Linked DNA regions of Homo sapiens: region 1 is linked to region 2. Evidence: fine-mapped expression QTL. Tissue or cell type: whole blood. Region 2 holds a variant in brackets; the other region holds the start of a gene. All regions are shown on one strand. Distances are between the middles of the regions.

Region 1 (8,000 bases), 30 kb after region 2:
GGTTCTGCATTTCTAGGTGATATAAATGATAATGGTTTGAGAACCACACTCTGGAAAGCAAGAGTAAAGCACTGGTTTTCCACCTAAGCTGCAGATTAGAAACACCTGGGAAGCTTTTAAAACTGCTGATGCTCAGACATTACTCCAGACCAATTAAATCAGTACCCAGGCACTAGTATCAATATTTTTCAACACACACCACCACCACTGATGTCACTAGGTAGTTCCAATGTGCAGCCAGGGTTAAGAACAACTGCTCTAAAGTGTAATGCTCCCCTCTGGCGCCCTGGCACACTTTTCAAAGAAACATCCACAGTCAAAGTGGAGAGCCTCCTAATGACAATATCTCCAGAATTTTACCCTTAATCTTAATCACAATATTAAGACTCTGAATATACAGTTTTAGCTAATATTTGATTTATTCCAATCCTTCTCTTTGTCAAAACAGATTCAAATACTACTAAATGAGCTTTAATATATGCTGTTAAAACTGTCTTACAGATGCCAGCCCTTGTTTCCCACCCATACTCCTCTAGATGAATCTACCCTGACCCACAGCTGAAGAGTTCAGGGAGTTATTTGTAGCAGCTGCCCTCCTACGCTTTTATTTTATTTATTTTATTTATTTATTTTTTTTTTTTTTGAGGCAGAGTCTCACTCTGTTGCCCAGGCTGGAGGGCAGTGATGCAATCTCGGCTCACTGCAACCTCTGCCTCCTGGGTTCAATAGATTCTTCTGCCTCAACCTCCCAAGTAGCTGTGATTACAGGTGCTTGCCACTACGCCGGGCTCCTCCTGTGCTTTTTAATGCAGCTAATTTTTGGCAAGGGTGGACAACTGACTGAAATAAGCCAGTTTGTTCATTTATTCATTTTTTTTTAATTAAGTGCAGGGAATAAACTGGTGAGCACTATTTCTGAGTTAATCTAGTGAGAAAGACAACTGCTATATAATGCAGTATATGCTTTGTTATGGGCAAGTCCAGGGTGCACAGAGCAGGAACACCTTTTGTAGTCTGGGAGTGGGGAGAAAGGGGTAGTTGAATATTTTAAGGATAGCTTAAGATGGGAGTGACAGCTTAGCTGAGAGACCTCAAACAAGTAGGAGTTGGTCAGATGCCAGAAGGGAATAAGAATGTTCTAGGCAGAAGAAATAGCATGGATGAAGATCCACATGCAAAAGAAAACATGACCAGTTAGGAGAACTGGAAGTTCAGGGAGCTCTAGTGTAGACTGCATGGATGGAGTCAGAGCAGAGAGTAGGTAACAGACAGGTTGGGAAGGCATGGTACTCAGTCAAGTTATCTCTTCCAAGAGCTATATAACTGGAATACTGGGCAATGGAGATGATTGGCTGTGGGTCTATAGATCTGGCAATGTCCTGTAGGGTTGAAGCCTGAAACGAAGTCCTAGCAAACCAGCTCCACGTGCTAGGGATTCCTCCTTTTAAGTTCAAGTCTCCCTTGGCCCTCACACACTTGATTTCCCACCCCTGAATGCCTATAAGATTTACTGTCATATTCTTACAGTGAATGGATTCCCTTTAACATAAGCTAGTACAAGGGGGTTTGTACTTCTTGCTATCAAGTAGTGGAGGCAAACCTCTGATTATTAAGGGGCCACTGGATGTTAGTTATAGCTAGAAGGCAGGGTCCTGTTTGGAGTGTTGATCTGTTTATTTGGGGAAAGGTACTGACACAAGGCTGAAGCATTGTTTAAAAATCTGCTGTTTAAAAAACTTAGAGGGAGCTTATACTGCTAGAAGATTCACAAGCGCAGAAGCACTCTGTCTTGCTGCTTTCAAGAAAATAAATGGTTAAGAAGGTCGCTCTAACAACCAATCGACAATCTAATTGCAAGCAATGTGTCTAAGAGGAAATAACCTGAGTGATGGCTGACCTTGCACACAGAAGAACGCTCTGAGGGTGCCTTTCAATTGTGATTTTACCCCCAGGAGACATTTAACAATATCGGGAGATATTTTTGGTTGTCACAACTGAGAGGTGGGGTGCTTCTGGTATCTAGTGTGTAGAGGCTACGAATACTGCCGAATATCCAACAATGCACAGGACAAGCAAGAATGAGTCAGCCTGAAATCTTGATAGCGCCAAGATTGAGAAACCCTGCTCTATGACAACAATAAACAGAAGCTTACTGTCAGGAACTGAAAAAAAAAAAGCTGTCTCTCTGAAATGGTGAAAATGACTTTGGAACTCCCTTGATCTACCTCTACAGTTGCCATGCAAAATAAAATAAACCAATGGTTTTCTAGTCTTAAAACAAGAGCGTGAAATGTCCCTTTATCAGGACTGAGGAATATCTGAGGACTAGAGTTAAACATCCAGGTGACAAATTGTTAAACAATGGTCTGCACAGAGGAGTGTGTTTATCCTAGGGTGGAAAGAAGATAACACACCAAGCTCTGAGAACAGAGCTTCTATTTACATTTTTTTTTTTTTTTTTTTTTTTGAGACGAGTCTGGCTCTGTTCCCCAAGCTGGAGTGCAGTGGTGTGATCTCGGCTCACTGCAACCTCCGCCTCCCGGATACAAGCGATCCTCCTGCCTCAGCCCTGCTAGTAGCTGGGATTACAGGCACGTGCCACCATGCCCGGCTAATTTTTGTATTTTTAGGAGAGACGGGGTTTACACCATGTTGGCCAAGCTGGTCTCAAACTCCGGACCTCAGGTGATCCACCCGCCTTGGCCTCCCAAAGTGCTGGCATTACAGGCGTGAGCCACCGCGTCCGGCCCCTATTTACATTCTTAACCTTAAAAAAAAATTAAAGTTGCCTTGCGCTTTCATTTGGTCTGGGTGCCAGATAGTCAAGTGTTAAATATAGAGAGAGGCCTCCTGAGAGAAGAGCAGACACTTCTCTGAAGGGCTTATGGTGGGAGCTCACTTCCCTGACAGCATTCTCATGCTTCTGGGCTGGATCAGTCAAAACTATCAGCTTTTTGTTTACATCCAAGCAACACTACTCCAACTAGCGTAGTCATTGGAACAAATGTTCATAGTCCTGAGGGTACAGAAGGACGACACTGAAAAGATCCCAAGGGGAAATAAAATCTTTCTATTTGAGCAAAAAGGTAAAAGCACTATGTAGTCATCTTTTTTGGCACATCAAAAAAGTCATCGTGGCACATCAAGACAGACCTCACGAAAGCAATTAATATTCCTATATTATTAGGATAACTTTGCATAATTAAAATTACATAAGTGTACAACAGCTGAAAACACAGCATTAAATACAACTTTTAAAGTCTAATTTTTACCATGTGATAACCGTATCAAATTTTGCGAATATTTTGTGAGACTTGGCAGTAGATGGCGCTCACCTTTACTAAAAGTCTGAGCAGCGCCTTAACACTAACAGGAACTTAAGAATCCAGCTCTGATGTCAGGCAATCCCGTGTCCAGGTCAGGTCACTTTTTTAAGTCTCAGTTTCCTCACTGGTAATGTGGGGGTGGGGGCCTCCCCAATGACCTCGCAACTCAGACCGCTTTTGATTCTCTGACTACAGTGGTGGAGTTGAGACAGGTCGGCTGCTGCAACCGCCGTCTGAAATAGCAATCCGGAAAAGTCAGGTTGGGAAAGTGACAGAGTAGACGCCCTGCGGCTCTGATCCGGGCGGCGCCTCAGCTGCCCACACTATGTGGGCGGCAACGCACAAACTCCTTAACCACGTGGTGCCTCCATTCCCCTAGGGAGTCCCATCACAGGATAACTTCTAGCAAAATCAATCTTCAAGAAAAAAAGAAGGGGTCCTGCCGAAGATATAAGGAAGCTCCCTGGGGATCCCGCAGCACAGCACAAACTTAGTTCTTGAGAGCCGCACAAAACCAACTTCCGCCCCAGTGGAGTTGCGTCCGGAAGGCGCGGCCCCGGAGGTCACGTGGGCCCGCGGAATTACAGCCTGGCGGGGCGCTCAGGTGGAAGCAGTAGGCCACATTATGTCGACTGTTCCATGCAAGTCAGGGTGGGGGCCGTCCCTATCGCAGGCATGAGACAAGTCCAGCTGCGTCGTGTCTGGTAATCTGAGGGCAAGAAGAACGATTTGCAGAAGCTCCCAGTTTTCTTGGCTGTGGCACAGTCGCTTTGAGGGCCAGGTTCCTTCGGCTTCCTCCCGACTCCCCTGCTTCCCCCCGTAGGATTCCCGTTGGTATCGTCCGAGCCCCACCTCCCTCCTCTTCGCCCCCGCACGCCGAAAACAGGGGCCTCTCACGTGACCCCTGCGCGCTCCCGCGGGGGAGCGTAGTCTCGGAGGCGGCGCCGCAGGGGATTGAGGGGTTGACTGAGCGTTGCGAGCCTTAGCTTTCTCCCGAACGCCAGCGCTGAGGACACGATGTCGCGGCTCTCCCGCTCACTGCTTTGGGCCGCCACCTGCCTGGGCGTGCTCTGCGTGCTGTCCGCGGACAAGAACACGACCCAGCACCCGAACGTGACGACTTTAGCGCCCATCTCCAACGTAACCTCGGCGCCGGTGACGTCCCTCCCGCTGGTCACCACTCCGGCACCAGGTGGGCGCGGGCCCTGTGGGCTTCCCGCCCTCCCCTGCCCAGCCGAGCCGCACTGCCTCCTCGCCGTGCGGGCGGGGCCCGGGTTCGGGCCACGGTCGGGCGGGCGGGCCGCGCTCGGGGTGCGGCGGCGACTCCGGCAACATGGCGGCCAGCCTGGAGTCCACTCGTGGCCGGGCCGGGTGGGGAGCGCGCTGGGGGGAAGCGGACGCGCGGTTCCCAGTGGCTGCGGGGCTGGGGCCCCCCTCGAAGTGTTGCAAGTCGAGGTGCCTTTTAAAAGTGCATCGTAATTCCTAGCCTCACTTGGGGTCGGAAATGGGGACGTGGCTTCCTTCCGCGGGGGCAGCGGTGGGGTTGAGGATGGGGCCGGGCGTCGCGCCTCTGAGGTTGGCGGTGGGGCCGAGCTGCCTCTCCCTGCCACTGGTTGTTCACCCTCCCGGCGCCTCTCTCCGGAGGTAGCCTTCTCCGGAAGTCCGGGAAAGAGAAACTTAAAGACGGTAATGCTCGTTCGTGTCTCAGACTTGAGTCTGAGAAGGTCGCTTGAGATTTAATTACATTGGTTTTGCAGATAGGAATAGAATGTAGCTGACGTTTGAGCACGTAGTTAGTGAAAACTTCACACTTCAAAGTATGCGAAAAGGAAGAAAAGTACCCATGTATGTACCGGGTGTTTTGCGTACGTATCCTAAGGCTAAACTGGAAGGTAGGTAGTGAAACCTAGGAGGTAGATGCAGAGACGGAGATGAGTAAACTCTCCTGACATTGTATGTTTATTCTTTTTTCAATTGTTTTTAAAATTTTCTTAACTATGTCCTGTGCTCAGATAGCGTATGTTTAGTAGGTCGTGGAACGGGGGTTTGTGCCCAGGTCTGTGGGTTTTCTAAAACCCGATCAGGAGCGTGTCTTTTGTTATGTGCAGTCGCATAGGGCTGGTTAAGGCATACATACATTTTAAAGCAGAAATTGCCATATACCGTGACAACACAAAAGAGAGAAGGAAGATAAGTTTGAGGTAATAAGCGGGAGAAACACTAGAGGTTTAAAACCTGCAGTCTCGTATGATTGGTTATTCTAGTTAACATTAGTTAAGGAGTAATGTTTACGTAGTTAACATTGGCTTCTTGACCGAAGAATGCCGAAGTGTAATGATTTTTATCACGGCATTCATATTCTACAAATTCTCCTCTAGTTTTAGTATTTTATAAAAGTTTAATAAAGTATATAGTAAACTTAATGTTTTGTTTTTAGTTTAAGGAAGATGTAATGGTAACATTTCAAAACGAGGGAAGTAAATTGCAGTATAATACTGGGAATTCTAACCGCACTATTTTAAGATGATAGAGCAGAATATGTTTGTCTCAGTCTTAATTTGACAGTTTCCTTTCAGAATTGTAGTGTGTGTGTAAGAGAAGGTTGGAAGTATCAAATTAATTTGTCTTTGTGTAATTGAAGTGCGTGCAAAGGAGGTATGTATTTTCTGGAAATCATAAGTGGATGTAGTGTGGTCTGAAAGGTAGCAAGTTTAGTTCATTGTAAAGAACATTTCAGACATTTCACTTTGCTACACCCGTCAAGCACAAAGGTTTTTAAACAGCATGTTTTATCTATACAAACTTCAGAAAATTTATTTTTACTTTATGAACCCTTCCCCACCCCACCGTACATGTCCCAGTCTTTAATAAGTACTAATGATGAAGTATTGAAAGCAGTGCCTCTGCAGAACTATTTTTTAGGCAGGAGCAAAGCAAACGAGAATGTTTGGAGGCATCTAGTTTCTAGGAAAATGAATGGAGCCCAATTCTTTTTTTTCTTTTATTTTGCTGCTTTTTCTCACTGGAAAATAGAGCCCAATTTTATAGTCCGTTCTTCTCCAGAAATTGAATTATGGTGATGAGTACTTGTTTCTGGATTGTTTGGCCTAGGATGAACTATTGACAAATACCTTGTTAACCTGAATTGTATGCACTTGAATATGGGCTTTTAGATGTTGTCTCCAGTTGTGGAGGATCCTGTCGAGAGTGGATCATTTATGAATCGAGAATCCCTGGGAAATTATCTTTGTTTGCAGCAGAATGGGCATCATCAGTGCTTGGGTTCAACCTGTTAAACTACTACTGTTACTACTAAAAATCTCAGGGTTTTATCTGATGTTTGGGGGTAGTGGTTTTCCTATGTGTAGTGTTGGTATTATATCAAAGCCTTTTTCTCGATATTTTTATGTATTAAGGATGCTTTGAAATGCCTAAATCCTTAGTGGCTGTGGGTGTCTTCCAATAGTTGTCCTGTGAAAAAGGATTGGTTAGACAGATACCATCAGGCACTGTACTGAGAGTGACCACTAGCTTGTTTTTCTAATGCGTTTACTTACAGCTTTGTAATGATTGGAATTTCTTAGTAAACCAGTATAAAGTTTTATCATTTATCTGAATTAGTAATTTTGATGCTGTATGTAATGCTTATTGTTCAAAAAGATAAGTAATACAGATTCAAATAAGATACTAATAAAATCATTGATTTCATGCATCTCTCCCCCCAACTCCCCAGAAACCTGTGAAGGTCGAAACAGCTGCGTTTCCTGTTTTAATGTTAGCGTTGTTAATACTACCTGCTTTTGGATAGAATGTAAAGGTAAGAAACTTTGGGGATGCAAAACTGTTTTGTTATAGCATTTTAAAATACAGTAATTCTTGAACACTTGAAAGTTATGTAGGACATTTAGGATATTGTGCACTATTTATTTTGCAAATCCAGTACTCCTTTAAAGTGCCAGTTGCCTCGCACTCCCCCTGAAAATCTCTTTTTGTCTCCCATCCTCCCTTTAGATTCCTTAAGACTTGATAATTAAAGCTCAGTCGTTTGTTTTTTATGAGATGGAGTCTCCTGTGTTACCCAGGTTGGTCTTGAAATCCTAGGCTCAAGCAATCCTCCAACCTTGGCCTCCCTAGTAGCCAAGACTACAGATGCGTGCTTCCTCACCTGGCTTTTTTTAAAGCCTGTTCTAAGGATTGAGAGTACTTTAATACACTGGAATTAGCTGTGAGTGAAGGTTGTGTTGAAAACTGTGTCCTGCAACATGAAATATAAAGAGACCTTATGAAACTGTTGGATGCTTAGGTGTAGAGAAGAAAGAGGTAGGGAGAGTTGACTTCCTGTGCTTTTGTTAATACAAGAGGTAGAGCGCTAAAGGGACGTACATTGAAATTCAATAAGATTCTTATTAGAACCATATTACTGCATACATTATTTTAATTGTTTTTTAATGTAAAGTGGTTGCACTTATCAGTAAAACAATCTAGTTGTTTTGGCGGTTTTTTTTTTAAGTAAAAACAAACCATAAGTTTTTTTATTTGGTAAAAATTTTAATAGTTCTAGAAATTATATCACTACATAAATTTCAAAAAGCTCTTTAAGGTATTAACTAAATTGGGCCAAATTAACTTTTTTGTTATAGAAGTGTCTCTTTTTTTTAGGTCATAAAATGGGAT
Region 2 (8,263 bases):
TTTTTTTTTTTAAGAGACAGGATCTCACTTTGTCGTCCAGGCTAAAGTGCAATGGCGTGATCATAGCTCATGGTAACCTTAAACTCCTGGGCTTAAGGGATCCTCCTGCCTCAACCTCCCAGGTAACTAGGACTACAGGTGCATGCCACCACGCTGGCTAATTTTAAAAAAAAGATTTGTAGAGATGGGGTCTTGCTCTGTTGTCCAAGCTGGTCTCCAACTCCTGGGCTCAAGTGGTCCTCCTGAGTTGGCCTTCTGAGTCATTGGGATTACAAGTGTGAGCCACCAAGCCTAGCCTGCAAAATACCTTTTTTGTCTTGTATTGAAAATGCAGCTTTTATGTGGGCACAGGATGGCTATAAGAAAGGCAGACCTGTAGACTCTAATATGATTTGAGAAAAATCAAAGCTATTATATGACAACTTAAAGCAAAAGGAAGGTAAAAGATCTAAAACTGGATAATTTAATTCCAGCAAAAGATGGTTTGATAATTTTAGAAAAAAGTTTGGCTTTAAAAATGTCCAGATAACAGGAGAAGCAGCTTCTTCTGACCAAGAGGCAGAAGATAAATTCCAAGATGTCATTAACAAAATGAGAAGAAAAAGGATATCTACCTGAACAAGTTTTATGGCAGACAAAAGTGACCTATTCTGGAAAAAAAAAAAAAAAAGCCACAAAAAGGCCAGGCGCAGTGGCTCACACCTGTAATCCCAGCACTTTGGGAGGCTGAGGCGGGTGGATCACCTGAGGTCAGGAGTTCAAGACCAGCCTGGCCAACATGGTGAAACCCTGTCTCTACTGAAAATATAAAATTTAGCTGGGAGTGATGGCAGGTGCCTGTAATCCCAGCTACTTGGGAGACTGAGGCAGGAGAATCACTTGAACTCGGGAGGCAGAGGTTGCAGTGAGCCGAGATCACGCCACTGCACTCCAGCCTAGGAGACAGAGTAAGACTCTTGTCTCAAAAAAAAAAAAAAAAAAAGCCACAAAAGACATTTATTAGTAAGAGAAGCAAGCACTATCATTTAAGGCAGGAAGGAATAGGCTAACTGTACTGTTGTGTGCCAATGCAGTTGGGTTTATGATCCAGACTGCTCCTAACCATAAAGCTGCTAACCTAAACACCAACTGCCAGCCTTTTGGTTGTACAAAAAGGCCTGGACAATGAGAACCCTTTTTCTAGATTGGTTACATCAATACATTCTCCCTGAAGTTAGGAAGTACCTTGCCAGTAAGGGACTACCTTTTAAAAAGTTCTTTTGATATTGAACAATGATGCCCCTGGCCACCAGAACACCATGAGTTCAACACCAAAGGCATCAAAGTGGTCTACTAGTCCCCAAACACAACATGTCTAATTCAGCCTCTAGTCAGGGGGTCATAAGGACCTTTAAGGCTGATTACACATGGTACTCTATGGAAAGGATTGTCAACATTATGGAAGAGAACCCCAATAGAAAGAACGTCATGAAAGTCTGGAAGGATTATACCATTCAAGATGCTATTGTCGTTATAGAAAAAGCCATGAAAGCCATCAAGCTCAAAACAAGTTTCCGCTGGAGAAAATTGTGCCCAGATGTTGTGCTTGACTTCACGGGATTTATGACAGAGCCCATCAAGGAAATCATCAAAGAGATTTGTGGATATGGCAAAAAAGATGAGGGGTGAACGTTGTCAAGATATGGATCTTGGAGAAATTCAAGGCCTAATATATACCACAGCAGAGGCATTCAAAGATGAGTTGATAGAGATGAGTGCCTCCGAACCAGTGCCAGATCATGAGGAAGAAGACGTAGAAGGAGCAGTGTCAGGAAACAAACTGACACTAGACAATCTGGCGGAAGGGTTCCAGTTACTCAAGACTACTTTTGACTTCTTTTACAACATAGACCCTTTTATGATAAGAGCAATGAAACTAAAGCAAAGAGTGGAATAAGGATTGATACTGTATGGAAACATTGCTAGAGAAATGAAAAAGCAAAAAGTCAAACAAATTATAATGTATTTCCGTAAAGTTAACACTGAGTGTGACCACCTTTCCTGCCTCCCCTTCTACCTCGTCCACCTCTCTGCCTCTGCCACCCTGAGACAGCAAGACCAACTCCTTCTCTTCCTCCTCCTCAGCCTACTCAGTGTGACAAGGATGAAGACTGTTATGATGATCCACTTCCACTTAATGAATAGTAGATATATTTTCTCTTCCTTATGATTTTCTTTATAACATTTTATTTTCTCTAGCTTATTTTATTGTAAGGATACAGTATACAATACATGTAACACACCAAATATATGTAATCGACTATTTATGTTATTGATAAGGCATCTAGTCCATTGCAGACTATTAGTAGTTAAGTCACTGGGGAGTCAAAAGTTATATGTGGATTTTTGACTGCTCCGAGGGGTTGGTGTCCCTAACCCCCCGCATTGTTTAAGGGTCAACTGTAGATCAAAACTGTAACAGTCTATATCAAAATAAGCTAAAAGAAGCCTGGGCAACATGGCAAACCCCATCTCTACAAAAAATACAAAAATTAGCTGGGCATAGTGGCACACACCTGTAATCCTAGCTACCTGGGAGGCTGAGGTGGGAAGATTGCTTGAGCCTGGGAGGCAGAGGCTGCAGTGAGCCAAGATTGCACCACTGCACTCCAGCCTGGGCAACAGAGCAAGACCTTGTCTCAAAAAAAAAAAAAAAAAAAAAAAAAGCTAAAAGACATTAAGAAAATGATACAAGACATGAAAGAGCTCATAAATCAGAATTAGAAAAAAACATGATGCAACAGAGCTGAGGAAAGAAGGGCTGAGGAAAGCAATGAAAGAAAAATAATTTCAGAAGTGAGTAAACTACAAGGAACATAAGAGGAAATAAAAATACAACATATGTCCTAAAAGAAGTACAAGGTAGGCAGAGGAATTTTTTTGTTTGCTTTAATTTTTGTGGGTACATAGTAGGTGTGTATCTTTATGAGGTACCTGAGATATTTTGGTACAGGCAAGCAATGTGAAATTATCACATCATATAAAATAGGGTATCCATCTCCTCAAGCAGTTATTCTGTGTGTTACAATCCAATTATACACTTTTATTTTAAAAGGTACAATTATTATTGACTATAGTTGCCCTCTTGTTCTATCAAATACGAGGTCTTACTCATTTTTTCTTTTTTTTTGTGCCTATTAACCATCCTCACCACCCTCCTTTAACCCTCACTACCCTTCCCAGTTTCTGGTAACCATCCTTCTACTCTCGTCTCCATGATTTTATTTGTTTTGATTTTTAGATCTCACAAATAAATGAGAACATGTTATGTTTGTCTTTCTGTGCCTGGCTTATTTCACTTAGCATAATGACCTCCAGTCCCATCCATGTTGTTGCAAATGACTGGATCTCATTCTTTTTTATGGCTGAATAGTATTCCATTGTGTATATGTACCACATTTTCTTTATCCATTCTTCTGTTGATGGACACTTAGGTAGCTTCCAAATCTTGGCAATTGTAAACAGTGCTGCAACAAACATAGGAGTGCAGGTATCTCTTTGATATAATGATTTCCTTTCTTTTGGGTATATACCCAGCAGTGAGATTCCTGGATCATATGGTAGCTCTATTTTTAGTTTTTTGAGGAACCTCCAAACTGTTCTCCATAGTGGTTGCACATTAGTTTACATTCCCACCAACAGTGTACAAGGGTCCCTTTTTCTCCACATCCTTGCCAGCATTTGTTATTGCCTGTCTTTTGGATAAAAGCCATTTTAACTGGAGTGAGATATCTCGTTGTAGTTTGGGTTTACGTTTCTCTGATGATCAGTGGTGTTGAGCACCTTTTCATATGCCTGTTTGCCATTTGTATGTCTTCTTTTGAGAAATGTCTGTTCAAATCTTTTGCCCATTTTATAATCTGATTATTAGGTTTTTTCCTGTAGAGTTGTTTGAGCTCCTTATATATTCTGGTTATTAATCCCTCGTCAGATGGGTAGTTTGCAAATATTTTCTGTGGGTTTTTGTTTGTTTGTTTGTTTGTTTTGAGACAGAGTCTCACTCTGTCACCCAGGATAGAATGCAGTGGTGCCATCTCAGCTCACTGCAACCTCCGCTGCCTGGGTTCAAGCAATTCTCCTCCCTCAGCCTCCCAAATAGCTGGGATTAGAGGCGCACATAACTACACCTGGCTAATTTTTGTATTTTTAGTAGAGACAGGGTTTCACCATGTTGGCCAGGCTGGTCTTGAACTCCTGACCTCGTGATCCACCTGCCTCAGCCTCCCAAAGTGCTGGAATTACAGGTGTGAGCTACCACGCCCAGCCATGTCTTCACTTTGTTGTTTCCTTTGTTGTGCAGAATCTTTTTAACTTGATATGATCCCATTTGTCCAGAGAGTTTCCTCGATGTTTTCTTGTAGTAGTTTCATAGTTTGAGGGCTTAGATTTAAGTCTTTAATCCATTTTGATTTTATTTTTATATATGGTGAGAGGTAGGGGTCTAGTTTCACTCTTTTGCATATGGATATCCAGTTTTCCCAGCATTATTTATTGAAGTCTTTTCCTCAGCTTATGTTCTTGGCACCTTTGTTGAAAGTGAGTTCACTATGAGTTTGTGGATTTGTTTCTGGGTTCTCTATTGTGTTCTGATGGTCTATGTGTCTGTTTTTATGCCAGTATCATGCTGTTTTGGTTACTATAGCTCTGTAGTATAATTTGAAGTCAGGTAATGTGATTCCTTCCGTTTTGTTCTTTTTGCTTAAGATAGCTTTAGCTATTCGGGGTCTTTCATGGCTCCATGTAAATTTTAGGATTGTTTTTTCTATTTCCATGAAGAATGTCATTGGTAATTCCTTTTTAGAAGAAAACAGCTTTATTGAACAGGCAGTGTTACAGCTCCAGTGGTGTTATAGCTCTGTGACTGCTCCTGCAGAGCAGAGCTACCCTGTAGGCAGAGAGTAGCAGCTCAGGACAGTTTTACAGTCACATTTATACCCACTTTTAATTGCATGAGATTAAGGGGCAGTTTATGCAGGAAAGGGATAGTAACTTTTGGATCATTAGATGCCATGGAAAAGGCCAGTAACTCCCAGGTGTTGCCT[C/T]GGCAACAGTAGATTGACATGGCACATTGATGGACAGGTCTGATTGAAAGGTGCTTTCGCCCTGGCCCTATTTTAGCTAGTCCTCAATCTGATCCCCACCTCTGGAGTCCTCAATCTGAGCCCCACCTCTGGAGTCAAGTCCTGCCTCCTACCTCATTTTCCCCTCAGAAATTAGATCCTCCTCCTTAATATTAAGAGGGCTGCAGAAGGGTGAAGGCCAGTCTTCTGTAACTGCTTGCTGCTGAGCTCATGGCCATAGGCCCTGCCTAGCACTGGAGGAGTAAAAAAATCTCTGGATACCTGTTGTAACGGGCCCACAGGCAGGACACTTTCATTCTCCAGGTCAGTAGATGGGATAGGTTGGAAGCCTTGTGCCAGCATTGTTTTTTACCTGGAACTGTTGTAATCTAGAAAACACAAACTTTTACTAAGAGGTTAAATAAGCAAGGGCCAAAAATTGGAAACAAGAAGATAACTATCCAAGGTTCTATGAGAGGTAAAAACCAGGTGAGACTTGGGAAAGCACTTGATAATTGACCAGCTATAGTTGGGGTCAGTGCCCTGGTTATATCTGTGTAACCAGGTAGCTTGTTCATAGATCTTTTGAATGTTAATCTCAACTTGCCTAGAGTTGTTAAAATATGTGCAGCAGGTTTTATTAATAACTACACAGACTCCACCATGTTCAGCTAGTAAATAATCCAATGCTAGTCTGTTAATGAGAACTGCATTTGCCAAAGAGCCTAAGGACTCTTGAATTCCCTTTAATGCCTGACCTGTGTTGGTGGCTAAGGATTCTAGGGATTGAGTCAAGTTCATTAGAGTTGGCTCATGGTAGGCAAAGCTGCCCCGGGGTGCTGCTAGTCCTATCACTGCCAATTCCTGCCAGAATTACTCCTATTACTCACTTACTTCTGGTATTCTTGGGTGTTATGCGGTTATAGACAGTGACTCCTGGAGGGGCAAGAGTGGCCAGCATACATTCACCTCTGTTCCAAGTTTTTGATATACAAGGGAAAGCTACTCCTAAGGGAAAAGGTGACTTCCTAGGGAGTTGGGAGCAGTTCAGGTTGTAACTTCTTCCCATTCATGCCACAAACAAAAATGAGCCGGTTGGGGCACAAACAGAAGCCCTATTGGGATGTGGTATTTATGCTTTACTGTGAAATTGTGTCTAGAGAGATATTTTTCCCCTGTTCCGATGGGGGTGGCGGGACACCCTTTGTTTTCTGGAAGGGGGCAGTACTCCCACCTTCCCAGACTAGGCAGTTGTTTTTCCCTTATATGTTCTGATCCAGAAGGCACCATATGTGGTCTCCTCACTTACAAGTAGAATCCCATTTACCTTGCTGTGGCCTTGGGAATGTGGCAACTAAAGTTGAATCAGAGCATCACAGGGAGGCTTCCACTCTTGTGTCATGAACACAACAGTGAATGCAAAAGATAGAATCATTAGTGCGCTAGAGATATAGATACCCAATTTCCCAGGTCCAGGTAATGTTGGCAGGGGGTTCAAGTGGAATCCGTTAAGTGGGGGAGAGTTCCATTCAACAAGTAGGAGTTTGGGATTTGAAGATCACTATTTTAGGAGGTCAGCGGGGATGGTAGTGAGGTTTCTTAGGTAAGCCAGAAGACAGAACTCTCTATCCTGGGAATGTTCATGACAATCCAGCAGCCATGAAGATGATTCCCTGATGCAATACTTGTCGAAATATTTATTATAGAGTTGTGTTCCCACCCATACTGGACCAAGGTGATTAGGAGAGCAAACAGGATGAACAGTGACAACATGGTGTTCCGTTGGGCCTTAGCATGGCCTCTACACCCAACAAGGACAAAAGAGGTGTTTCCCAGGAGCTTGGCTAAAGCTACAGAAAATAAGTATTATAATCAGGAAGAAGAAAAATATTAAAGCTCCAGCAGAAATGGTGCCAACTGATCTTCCACATGGGACACGGGTGAAGATCTCTCCAGGATACCTCAGCTGCGATGGGCTCAGCGAGGCTGCCTCAGTGGGAGGGGCTTGCATCAGGTGGTAATCCATGGGTCTGCTGGTCAGAGAAGCGGGCCCTACACGAGGCAGATGGCACTATGGCCACCCTGCTAGTGGGCTGTCATTGGTATTTTGATAGAGATTGCATTGACTCTAGATTGCTTTGGATAGTATGGACATTTTAAATAATATTGATTCTTCTAGCCTATGAACATGAAATAGCTTTCCATTTTTGGGGCATCCTCTTCAGTTTCTTTCATCAGTGTTGTATAGTTTTCATTGTAGAGATTTTTCACTTTGGTTAATTCCTATTAATTTAGTTTTATTTGTAAATGGGTTTACTTTTTAGATTTCTTTTTCAGATTGTTCAGTGTTGGCATATAGAAATGCTATTGATTTTTGTATGTTTTTGTATCTTGCAACTTTACTAAATTTATTTATCAGTTCTAATAGACTTTTGTGTGGAGTCTGTAGGTTTTTCTAAATATGAGATCATGTAATCTATAAACAAGGATAATTTGACCTCTTTCTTTTTTTTTTTTGAGATGGAGTCTCACGACACTGTCGCCCAGGCTGGGGTGCAGTGGCGTGATCTCAGCTCACTGCAACCTCTGCCTCCTGGGTTCAAGTGATTCTCCTGCCTCAGCCTCCTGAGTAGCTGGGATTACAGGCACCTGCCGCCCTGCCTGGCTAATTTTTTTGTATTTTTAATAGAGATGGGGTTTCACCATGTTGGCCAGGCTTGTCTGGAACTCCTGACCTCAAGTGATCCGCCTGCCTTGGCCTTCCAAAGTGCTGGGATTACAGGCGTGAGCCACCGCACCTGACCTGACCTCTTTCTTTCCAATTTGGACCCCCTTTATTTCTTTCTCTTGTCTGGTTGCTCTAGCTACATAGTACTAGGAGAACTATACCCAGTCTTTTGAGGGTTTTTAATCATGAAGGGATGTGAATTTTATCAAATGCTTTTTCAGCATTAATTGAAATGATCATATGGTTTTTATCCTTCATTTTGTCGATATCACATTGATTGATTTGCATACATTGAACCATCCTTGCATCTCAAGGATAAGTCCTGCTTGGTCATGATGAATGGCCCTTTTAATGTATTGTTGAATTTGGTTTGTAAGTATTTTGTTGAGGACTTTTGCATCAGTATTCATCAGAGGTAGTGGCCTGTAGTTTTCTT

What was found. PIP is the estimated chance that this variant, and not a neighbour inherited with it, causes the effect.
Region 1: it holds the start of CD164, and the variant in region 2 is fine-mapped to the expression of CD164 in whole blood (TOPMed, PIP 0.91).

Annotation. Positions count from the first base shown.
Region 1 is chr6:109,378,722-109,386,721 of GRCh38, reverse strand. It overlaps CD164 (CD164 molecule), which reads left to right and starts at 4,255. Exons shown (of 6, transcript NM_006016.6): 1 at 4,255-4,518; 2 at 7,060-7,143. The coding sequence starts at 4,344. RefSeq lists enhancers at 3,638-3,867, 3,948-4,297, 3,853-4,362 and a silencer at 4,518-4,797.
Region 2 is chr6:109,408,920-109,417,182 of GRCh38, reverse strand. The region is part of intron 6 of PPIL6 (peptidylprolyl isomerase like 6); the gene reads left to right. Among named protein-coding and RNA genes, the nearest start is that of PPIL6, 28 kb to the left of the region's middle. The variant C/T (reference allele first, on the strand shown) is at 5,082.